Linked DNA regions of Homo sapiens. The protein of the gene in region 1 interacts with the protein of each later gene in a biochemical or structural test. Each region holds a gene or a part of one and is shown on either strand. Other genes may lie near its edges. The genes, in order: COPG1, COPZ1 and COPE.

The links.
Region 2: the proteins of COPG1 (region 1) and COPZ1 form a complex in vitro, tested with the Homo sapiens proteins (one study listed by BioGRID).
Region 3: the proteins of COPG1 (region 1) and COPE form a complex in vitro, tested with the Homo sapiens proteins (one study listed by BioGRID).

The regions. Positions count from the first base shown.
Region 1 is NC_000003.12:129,266,482-129,270,228, reverse strand, and holds part of COPG1 (coatomer subunit gamma-1), read right to left. Parts: intron 3,206-3,747; coding exon 3,130-3,205; intron 2,293-3,129; coding exon 2,189-2,292; intron 1,735-2,188; coding exon 1,609-1,734; intron 1,298-1,608; coding exon 1,229-1,297; intron 1-1,228. UniProt on the Homo sapiens protein: The coatomer is a cytosolic protein complex that binds to dilysine motifs and reversibly associates with Golgi non-clathrin-coated vesicles, which further mediate biosynthetic protein transport from the ER, via the Golgi up to the trans Golgi network.
Region 2 is NC_000012.12:54,334,991-54,338,737, reverse strand, and holds part of COPZ1 (coatomer subunit zeta-1), read right to left. Parts: intron 1,523-3,747; exon of another isoform or gene 1,424-1,522; intron 1-1,423. UniProt on the Homo sapiens protein: The coatomer is a cytosolic protein complex that binds to dilysine motifs and reversibly associates with Golgi non-clathrin-coated vesicles, which further mediate biosynthetic protein transport from the ER, via the Golgi up to the trans Golgi network.
Region 3 is NC_000019.10:18,912,678-18,916,424, reverse strand, and holds part of COPE (coatomer subunit epsilon), read left to right. Parts: intron 1-3,378; coding exon 3,379-3,441; intron 3,442-3,747. UniProt on the Homo sapiens protein: The coatomer is a cytosolic protein complex that binds to dilysine motifs and reversibly associates with Golgi non-clathrin-coated vesicles, which further mediate biosynthetic protein transport from the ER, via the Golgi up to the trans Golgi network.

The DNA.
Region 1 (3,747 bases):
GCCCACATGCTAATTCCCAGAACCTGCAGCTATGTTACCTTGCATGGTAAAAGGGACTTTGTAGATGTGATTAAATTAAGGATCTTGAGCTAGGGGTTATCCTGGATTATCCAGGGGGGGCCAGTGTAATCATAAGGGCCCTTCTAGGGCAGAAGGTCAGAGTAGAGAGATTTGAAAAGGCCAGGAGTGTGGCCTCTTCAAATCACTCTACTCTGACCTTCTGCCCTAGAAGGGCCCTTAAAGACGGTGGAAGGGGCCACGAGCCAAGGATACGGGCCACCTCTAGTAGCTGGAAAAGGCAAGGGGGCAATACCTGGAGCCTCCTGAAAGAACTCAGCACTGCTAACAAATGAAACCCACTTTGGACTTCTGACCGCAGAGCTATAAGGTTATAAATGTGTTAAGCCACTAAGTTTGTGGTAACGTGTTACAGCAGCAATAGAAAACTGATATAAATGGAAAGTTTCATGTTATAGCGATCCCAATTAGCTCAGGATCCATGCTATATTGATATAAGACATGATTCTGAGTGTAATGGGGAAGGGGGGATTTCATTTAATTCAACATTAATTGGGAGCCTACTGTGAGGAAGGAAGGCACTGGGCTCAGTGCTGTGATAGACGCAGAAAATAAAAGACAGAACATGTGAAGAACTATTTAGCACAGAGGGCTGTTTAAGAGAAGACAGAAGAGCTAGGATGGAAGTGAGGGCCCATGAAGGAAGAGGGGTCTATGCTTTTATCTACTGAATTCAGTGGATAAAACAATCTGCAATTAGACACACAGCCTCTCCCCTTAAAAATGCAACACCAGAGGACAGATGGATACCTGAAGAAAACCTTACAAGACAATGTGGACAGAACACACGTGGAACCCGACAAAAAGTACCAGTGTCTTTGAATCCCAGCACTGCTCTCTCAGACATTCTGAACTGGCCTGGGCTCCAGGGACCCGAGCCCTCCAAATTGAGGCCCAGTAACAGCACTGAGCCAGTTTGATCGGGACCTTAATTCCAGCCCCTCCTACTACTTTCTCTCTCTGAACTTCCAATTCCTCAGATATTGAAGGAACCCAACAACCACCACCTGAGGGTCAAATGTGATAGTAGGTCTAAAGCATCTCAAGGGCCTAGCACTCAGGAGAGACCAATATATGACAGTTCTTACTCTTGAACCCCCTGAGGAAACTAAGCCCAGGTCCCAAGCATCCCCCAACCACTGTGACTCACCCTGGAAGATCTCCTGCCTGGTAGCTGCCACTTTCTCAGGCTGTTTGACTGCTGTGATGGGGGTACTTTCTGCAGGAGCAAATTATACACGTGATGACCAACAGCTGGAGTCACGGGGCAGTGTGGTGGTGACCCCAGTGCTATTACTCAGGGATTATAAATACTAACCCTCCTGAGAGTGGGAAGCAGAAGACATGTGAGAGAGCCCACGTCTGTGTGTATGTGTGTCTCTATTTTCTGGAGCCAGAGGTGGAAAAGATCATTTCCTCCTCCCAGCATAACTGCCACCCACCCTAGTTAGGTTAGTGGCTTTGCAGCCAATGCAGACCCTCCAACAGAGGCCTGGCCTTGATGGCCTCTGGGAGGAGTATAAGTGTTACCTGTTCTCTGCTCTGCCATGGGCGCCGTGGCCAGGGGCACAGACTTGAGGTCAAAAGGTTTTTCTGATGGTTCTAGAGTGTACTGCTGCAGAGCCCTCTCCAGACCAGGGATGGACACAGTCAGACCTGGAGGTGAAGAGAGGTCACCATGCCTGGCAGATAGAGCAAAATGTGCACCAGGGACCACCATGGAGGCCCTGGGGTCCCGAAGTTACAAGTCCTAAGTAGTATGACCCTGAGAAAATCACTTTATTCTCTAAGCCTCTGCATTCTCAGACACATCCTCCCTTACAGGGTAGGTGTGGGGAATAAACATATATACAAAGTGACTTGTAAAGGGTAAAGTACTGTAAAAATAAAGTTTTTATTAATGATGAGCGTTTCAATTCACTGGACAATTTCCACCCAATTCAGGTGTGACCTGAATGACCCGGGACCTCCTGAGGTCACCATGATGCCATGAGGTTGCCAGGCAAGTCCAGCCAAGAGCATCTTGCCTCTGATTTCCCCTGCCCAGGGAGTGATGAGAACCACAGCTCCAGTAAGGTGCTGAGTCCAAGATAGCCAGGGAATGACTCACCATTTAGGATATAGCCTGCATTAAGGGCCTTCTGCTTCTGCTCCAGGACATTTAGGTAGAAGGTGGCTCGGTCCCTTACTTCATTGTCATCATCCATCACACACCTGCAGCCAGGACACAAGGTGGTCCTGACTGGGACCCAGCAGGGATGGCAGGAGGGATCCTGCATGGCTTCATTAGAGGTAAGTCCATAGGGATAACAAGTAGACTAGTGGTGGCCCCAGGCGGAGGGTGGAGGGAGTGAGGAGAGGCCACACTCATGAACACTGAGTTCCCTTTGGGGTGATGAAATGTTTTAAACTCAGGTTGTGGTGATGGTTCCATCACTCTGTGAATATGCTAAAACCCATCAAACTACACATCTTAAATGGGTAAATTGTATGGTATGTGAATTATATCTCAATAGAGCTATTTTTTTTTTGAGCTGGAGTCTCGCTCTGTCACCCAGGCTGGAATGCGGGGCATGATCTCGGCTCACTGCAAGCTCCATCTCCCAGGTTCACACCATTCTCCTGCCTCAGCCTCCCAAGTAGCTGGGACTACAGGCACCCGCCACCACACCTGGCTAATTTTTTATATTTGTAGTAGAGACGGGGTTTCAGCGTGTTAGCCAGGACGGTCTCAATCTCCTGACCTTGTGATCCGCCCGCCTTGGCCTCCCAAAGTGCTGGGATTACAGGCGGGAGCCACTATGCCCGGCTTCAATAGAGCTATTTTTAAAAAATGGACAAAATAATTCAAGTTACCAATTGTCACATCTGGTTGGTGCAATTTGCACAGCATTGTTTTTCATGCTTTTCTATGCTTTCTCTTTTTTTTCTACAATCAGTAGCTGTATAACTTTTCTCTCCCTTTTCAGTTAAAAAAAAATAAAGACAAAGGAAAGCTGCTTGGGTCCAAGGGAACACTGTCCCCATTAGGGCCCCTGGGCCTAGACTCACCTCTTCAGCAACACCAAGATACTGGGTAACATCTCTTCATTCTGGGCTCCAAACTTCGCCAGAGCACTCACAGCACCTGTGTTTAGGAAGCGAATGTGATTTACCCAATGCACCCTGACAACTCACTGTTTGGGCACTTCCAGCACTCAGAATGGGTCTTCAGGCAGAAGAGCCCCAGAGGCAAGAAGTCTCAAGCCAGGAGGCCCAAAGTCACTACCAACAGAGTGAGTGGCTTTGGGTGGATCTTGGCACCATCCCAGGCCTCAACTTCCTTATCTATTTAATGGAGAAGGGCGCCAGATGGGATTAGTAGCTCCCATTCTAAGGTTCCAGGAGCTAATTTCAAATTAACCATGATGAGGTCACAGAAGCTGGCTATAATGTAAAGCTCCTCACCTTCCATATCCAAATGGCGTCAATTTGCAGTTAAGGCTCAGAATAATAAAAATGAGAAAGGGAACAATTACTTAAAGATCATTTATTGCTGAAAGAAGAAAATCTGTCCAGTGGGGGCATGAAAAGAAATTAAAAATAAAGAATAGGAAGGTTGCTCACTGAATTGTAAACTTTATATAAATGGGTGAATTTTATGGCATGTGAATTATATCTCAACAAAGC
Region 2 (3,747 bases), on another chromosome or scaffold:
TTGTCCAGAACAATGCCTGACACATACTAAACTCTCAATATTTGGTGAATAATTCAGAGAATAAAGGAAGTTTGAGAATAAAGTTAAAATACCTTGACGCAGTATGCATCTAAGGGACTACTTATAATTAGACCTCCACATATAAGTGGATTTTCTGATGTGGCCACTTTGGGTGATATTACTACCAACTTTATCCCTCCTCTGATAAACACTCCTTAGAGATGTCCATCCTGTATATATAACACTCTGGAATAAACAAGGCATGAGTAACTCCTCTCTCAAACTAAAGAACTTTGTTGCCTAGTGGAGGGAAGTCCTCTAGAGTCTAGTCTTAAAAGGTCACAAGTAGAAGCAGCTCTCCTAACTCCTAATTCCTCACAGAAAGATCTTCCTGTAAAGCAGGCTCAGTTCTATAACAACTTGGGTCCTCAATTCCAAAAGGGAGACAACAATGGGAATGAGTTTTCTTAATGGAAGAAAAGAAGTCCAAAAGGAACAAAATTTAGACGAAATCATTTTTTCCCACAACCTTTTCCTGGAAATCTTTGGCTCTGTTCCTCTATCCACATTCACAGCAACTTTAGAGAGCTGCCCATTAGTTTAAGCTGGGCATTAACCTGGCATAGGAAACTGGTTCTTGCAGCCATAGAGTTTGGCATCCCTAGAACCCAAAGAAAAGCAAAGCCCTAATGGCCCCCAGCCAACTGGGAGAGTCAGACAATGTCCTTTGTGGCCAACAGGGTGTGAGTGCCTACAACAGCCACACCGGCAAAGAGAGAACATATCCCTGGGTTCTGCTCTTGGTTCTTTTCACTGGCTTCCTAGAAGACATTATCAAAGAAACCCCAAAAATAGAAACATTGGATCTTCCTGGGAAGAATAAAAGACAGGCTAAGGAGGACAAGGATAAAGACTAGATTTGACATAGAGCTTACTGGAGCTCTCAAAAGGGAAAGAAGGCATTACAGAAAAGGCTGGTCATTTCAAACTTCCAAAGGAGGAAGCATACTAAATAAAGCTGAGAATTTAGGCAGGCGCTTAAATGCCGCTTCAATTCTCCATTCTGCTACAGCTGGAGCCAGCAGCTTCTTTACTTCTCCTGCCACCTCCTGACTGCAGCTGGTTCCACTTCAGCCTGGGGCTTTTACCTCTCAGGAGTGGGGAGGGCTATGCCATAAAACTAGCCAGTTTAAAGGCCCCAGAAGTCATTACTGATAATGTAATTTCATTTTAAGTTTTTGCAAAGGGCAAGTTTATAAATAACTCCCAGCTACTGAGAAATGGGCTTCCAGGACAATGGACTAGGCTTGACCTTGTAACACATTAAATGCTGACTGTTGAGAAAGACCTTATCAGCTTAGGGCCACACTGAAAGAATTTAAAAGGTCTATTCTTCCCTCCCACTCCCAAAATGGGTAGCTGCTAGAAAGCTTTCGAGACAAAGTTCTGTGATGCACTGACTTTCAGAGAGCCACAGCCTGAGTGTATAACAGAACTTCACCTCAAATGCTAATCGTGCTTGGAAATGATGTATAGGCAGATTGTTTTGTGGGAGATTGGGTGACTTAGACAGATTTTCATGTATTTATGTTTTTATTATCAAGAAAACAAGAATGCTGTCCTCAAGACAGGTGAAACACCACAGAACAAGCAACTAGGCTGCTGCAAATGAATCTTTGATCTCAGGGGCTTCTTTTTTTTTTTTTTTTTTTTTTTTTGCGACAGTCTCTCTCTGTCACCCAGGCTGGAGTGCAGTGGAGCAAACTCCGCTCACTACAACCTCCACCTCCCGGATTCAAGTGATTCTTGTGCCTCAGCCTCCCGGGTAGCTGGGACTACAGGCACACACCCCCATGCCCAGCTAATTTTTGTATTTTTAGTAGAGACGGGGTTTCACCAAATTGGCCAGGCTGGTCTCGAACTCCTGACCTCATGATCTGCCTGCCTCGGCCTCCCAAAGTGCTGGGATTACAGGCGTGAGCCACCGTGCCCGGCCTCAATCAGGGGCTTCTAAAGCCTGGTGAAAAGCATCAACATCTCCAAGAACTCTCTCCCCTAGCGCATAGAGGACTAGAGGGAAAGAGTCATTCCTAGTGCTGCCCCCTGTGGGCCTTCTCGGTGACCTGCAGCTTCCACAGGATTACAGTCATAAGCAAAAATATTTTTCAAAGGCAGCTCTGGATAAGAGCTTTTTTTTTTTTGAGACGGAGTCTCGCTCTGTCGCCCAGGCTGGAGTGCAGTGGCACGATCTCAGCTCACTGCAAGCTCCGCCTCCTGGTTCAAGCTCTCCTGCTTCAGCCTCCCGAGTAGCTGGGACTACACGCACCTGCCACCATGCCCGGCTAATTTTTTGTATTTTTAGTAGGGATGGGGTTTCACTGTAGCCAGGATGGTCTCAATCTCCTGACCTCGTGATCCGCCCGCCTCGGCCTCCCAAAGTGCTGGGATTACAGGCGTGAGCCACCGCACCCGGCAAAAGCTCTCTATTTGTGTGTCTTGTAGGACAAACTAGTAGAGATGGGCCCTGAAAAATAAGTGAATTAAGTCTGTTCACAATGTATATAGTAAGAGAACTCTTTGGGGTAAGATCTTAGTAAGCCACCAGAAGACTGGGAGAATATGTTTGGGGAAGGTAGAGAGGATACTTGGAAACTATAATGAATTATTTGATTCATTTAGGGGAAAAAACCAAGAAGCCTCTATGGAGGGAATTACAGGATGCCATCTACAGAGCTGAAAGAGCACAAATAAGAATATGGAGGCCAGGCGCAGTGGCTCATGCCTGTAATCCTAGCACTTTTGGAAGCTGAGGCAGGAGATCACTAGAGCCAGGAGTTCAAGACCAACCTGGGCAACACAGTGAGACCCTGTCTCTGCAAGAACTTAAAAAAAACAAAAATTAGCCAGGCATGGTGGCATGCACCTGTAGTCTCAGCTACTCAGGAAGCTGAGGCAGGAGGATCGCTTGAGCTTGGGAGTTCAAGGCTGTAGTGAGCTACAATTGCGCTACTGCACTCCAGCCTACACAAAAGAGTGAGACCGCCTCAAAAAAAAAAAGAAGCTGACTGAGATCACTAAAAAGTTCTTCATTGTCTACTTAAAAATAAATCCTTCCAGCCTGGCCAACATGGTGAAACCCTGTCTCTACCAAAATTACAAAACTTAGCCAGGCATGGTAGCAGACGCCTGTAATCCCAGCTACTCAGGAGGCTGAGGCAGGAGAATCGCTTATACCTGGGAGGCAGAGGTTGCGGTGAGCTGAGATCGCACCACTGCACTCCAGCCTGGGCGACAGAGCAAGACTTCAGATCAAAAAAAAAAAAAACATTCCCTAAGGCCATACCAAAAGGGCCTGATGTGGCATTACCCTGATGTGGCAATGGGTCTTGGTGAATTAAAAACTGTAACAAGATTCTCTTGTCTCAATCCTGTTTATAAAGTAAAACTAAGAAGGTAAAAACTAGAAGGAGAAATTCCTAGATACCACTCCCAGCTCCAAATGGCTAAGTAGGTATACTTCCTGACTCTGTGCCAACACTTTTTTTTTTTTTTTTTTGACAGAGTTTCACTTTGTTTCACTTTGTTGTCCAGGCTGGGGTGCAGTGGCACAATCTTGGCTCACTGCAACCTCCGCCTCCTGGGTTCCAGCAATTCTCGTGTCTCAGCCTCCTCAGTAGCTGGGATTACAGGTGACTGCCACCATGCCCAGCTGATTTTTTTTATTTTAGTAGAGATGGAGTTTCACCA
Region 3 (3,747 bases), on another chromosome or scaffold:
GCCTCAGCCTCCCACAGTGCTGGGATTACAGGTGTGAGCCACCACGCCTGGCCAGGAATACTTTTTTTTTTTGAGACAGAGTCTAACTCTGTCACCCAGGCTGGAGTGCAGTGGCACAATCTCAGCTCACTGCATCCTCCGCCTCCTGGGTTCACACCATTCTCCTGCCTCAGCCTTCAGAGTAGCTGGGATTACAGGTGCCTGCCACCACGCCCAGCTAATTTTTGTTTTTTTGTTTTTGAGATGGAGTCTTGCTCTGTTGCCCAGGCTGGAGTGTAGTGGCATGATCTCAGCTCACCACAACCTCTGCCTCCTGGGTTCAAGCGATTCTCCTGCCTCAGCCTCCCGAGTAGGTGGGATTACAGGCGTGCGCCACCACACCTGGCTAATTTTTGAGGAATACATTTTTTAAGCCATCTGGTCTGTGGTAGTTCATGACAGTGGCCTGAGCAACCTCAGCCCCACCTGAGGTGGCCCCAGGGAGAGCACCTGGCAGTCTTTGCCCTTTGCTGCCCCCAGCACTAGGCTACCATCATGACGTTTCTGGGTTTCTGACATTTGCCAGTTTGCCCACAAGATGGCAGGCACCGCCCAGCTGTTGGGGTTGAAGCAGCTCATAGGCCTTGAGTTGCTGACGGCCCAGTGCGGTCAGATCACTGGCTACAGGGACAGAAGGGAGGAGTTACTACCCCCAAGGTTTCTGGCTACAGGGCCCCCATCCTGTCACCCGCCTTCCCAAACAGTACCCTGATTCCTCAACCATGGCCACATCTTAAGCCACCTGGGGCCAGTGCTGGGGCCATCCTAGGGCCAGGTGACCTTGGTGGATGTGGCCTCCTGGCTTTGGTGGTTCCTGGGCTCCCAGGTGATCGTAGTGAGCCCTTGGGGTTGAAGAGCAATGCTCTCCCACCCCGGGGACACACATGCGTCCTGATGGTAGGATCGTCCCTGGAAGTCGAGGAAAACCACAACGGTTCCAGAGCCTCACGTCAGGGTCACGGTCTGCACATTTGTTGTTGTTATGCTTCCCGGCACTCTTGTCTCTCCAGTGCACTCTGCAGCCTCTGAGCACTTCCGCACGCACAGTCTCCTGGGCACCTGCATTTCACACAGGGGCGGCTGAGGCCACCCTGGTGCCCCCGATGGCGCCCCACTGTGTCCTCACTTTGAAAGCCCAACAGCCAGCTTTTGTCTCTTTTTTTTCCCTAAAGATAGACAGGGTCTCACTCTGTCACCCAGGCCAGAGTGCAGTGCAGTGGCATGATCATAGTCCACTGTAGCCTCGACCTCCCAGGCTCAAGCGATCCTCCTTCATGAACCTCCTGAGTCGCTGGGACTACAGGTGCATGCTACCACACCTGGCTAATATTTATAATTTTTTTATGGACACAGGGTCTCAGACCGGGCACGGTGGCTCATGCCTGTAATCCCAGCACTTTGGGAGGCCGAGGCGGCTGGTTCACAAGGTCAGGAGTTCAAGACCAGCCTGGCCAATATGGTGAAACCCCATCTCTACTAAAAATACATATAGTCGCGGCTACTCGGGAGACTGAGGCAGAAAAATCTCTTGAACCCAGGCGGCAGAGGTTGTAGTGAGCCGAGATACACGCCACTGCACTCCAACCTGGGTGACAGAGCAAGACTCCATCAAAAAAAAAAAAAAAAAAAAGACTATGCTTTTTGCTATGTTGCCTATGCTGGTCTCAAACTCCTGGGCTCAAGCAGTGCTCCTGCTTTGGCCTCCCAAAGCACTGGGTTTACAGGTGTGAGCCACCACACCTGGCCTGTCTTTTTTAACTGAGGGTGGCATGTGGCCCTGGGCTAGTCACCTAACTGAAGTCCACCTCAGAAGGTTGATTGAGAGTTACTTATTTATTTTTTATTGAGATGGAGTCTTGCTCTGTCACCTAGGCTGGAGTGCAATGGCGTGATCTCGGCTTACTACAGCCTCTATCTCCCGGGTTCAAGTGATTCTCTTGCCTCAGCCTCCTGAGTAGCTGGGATTATAGGCGCCCGCCACCACACCTGGCTAATTTTTGTATTTTTAAGTAGAGGCGGGGTTTCACCATGTTGGCCAGGCTGGTCTGGAACTCCTGACCTCTAATGATCCACCCACTTCGGCCTCCCAAAGTGCTGGGATTACAGGCATGAGCTACCATGCCCGGCCTATAATATGTTTCTTTGCATACTTGAAAAGGTACATATTTCACCTGTCCATCCCATTTGCAGGTGGGGCTCGATTTCTGCAGCCACCACCCTCCGCATGCCTTTGACATTCTTCTAGGAGTTATTTATTTAGATGGCATCTTGTTCCAAATCATAGCCAGATACCCACTCTGGCTACCAGGGCCTGAGCAGAAGCTGCTGGGTCCTCTTGGCAATGGCAGCCTGAGTCAGGCTGGGGCCAGGTCTGCGGCGGCCTGGGATGAGGACACGTTTGACATCCACGCTCCTCCCTCAGGCTGGGGAGAAGGAAGAGATGTGGCTTGGAATCTGTGGTTCTCGGCTTCAGAGGACAGGGCAGAGTGACTCCCCCTGGTTTGGGCACTGGGTCCTTTGACCCTGTGCCTTGACAGCTGGCAGGCCCTCTTGCTGACAGCCTTCTCAGTCCCCTCTGTTTAGAGGTTGTTGGAGTGGCGATGCCAAGGTGGCTGGGCCCCTTCCCAACTGTACTTTCCTCTCGAAGCCCCCAGGGGCCTGGGCGAGCACCCTCAGGCCATGGGCTGAGCTGCACTGTGCCCACCTGCCATGGGCACCCTGGGAAGTCAGCCAGCCTCCGGGGGCAGCATGCAAAGCTGTGTTCTGGAGAGCGGTCCCAGCCTCCCTCCCTGGCCTGGGCTCAGGGGCAGCTTCATTATCATCCCAAAATGGATGTTGCCACAGGTTACCTCCCTCTTGCTCCTCAGTTCTGTGCAATGGCTGGGCTGTGGGGGTGTGGCCCAAGTACAGAGCCATTCCCAGGGTCTCCCCTGGCCAGGGCTGGGCACAGATGTCACCACACTGGGGCAGCCAAACTGAGCTCAAAATGTCTTGAGACAAAAGCAGAACAGAATCAAGCCACAGTGGCCCCATGTCCAGAGGTTAGAGGTGCGGGTGCCACCCTGGCTTCTTAAGTGTGACTGGGGCAGACACTGAACTTGGGAGCAAGCCTCCTTCCTGGGGTGGTGTCAGCGCGGGATGAGATCAGGCACCCCCCGTGTAGGGTACCCCCAGCAGAGGCCACTCGGGCTACGGAGGATCAGGGCTGGGACTCAGACCTCCAACCCTGCCGGAGAAGCCACCTGTCCCCAGTGTACAGGGGCCTGTCTGTCATGCTCACCCTGTGTGGGCTGCGCTGGGCCTCCCACTGTGCGTCCTGACTCACATTGGTTCCCACAGCTATCAAGCCCAGAGAGAGACGTGGAGAGGGACGTCTTCCTGTATAGAGCGTACCTGGCGCAGGTGAGTGCGGGCCTTGGCCGGGGGCAAGAGTGATGAACAGAGTAGAGGGTGGGGCTGGGGACAGGAAGGCACCACAGAGTGGGTGGCGGGGACAGTAAACAAAGCAGGGACCCAGGCCTGCAGTGTTCAGTGACTGTGAACAGCCAGCGCAGCCAGCATGTGAAGGTGGCTGTGTCACGGAGGCCTGAGACTGCCAGGCCAGGGGGCCTGGGTCACAGCTTCTTGATTTTTTTTTTTTTTTTTTTGAGACGGAGTCTCACTCTGTCGTACTCGATCTCAGCTCACTGCAACCTCCGTCTCCTGGGT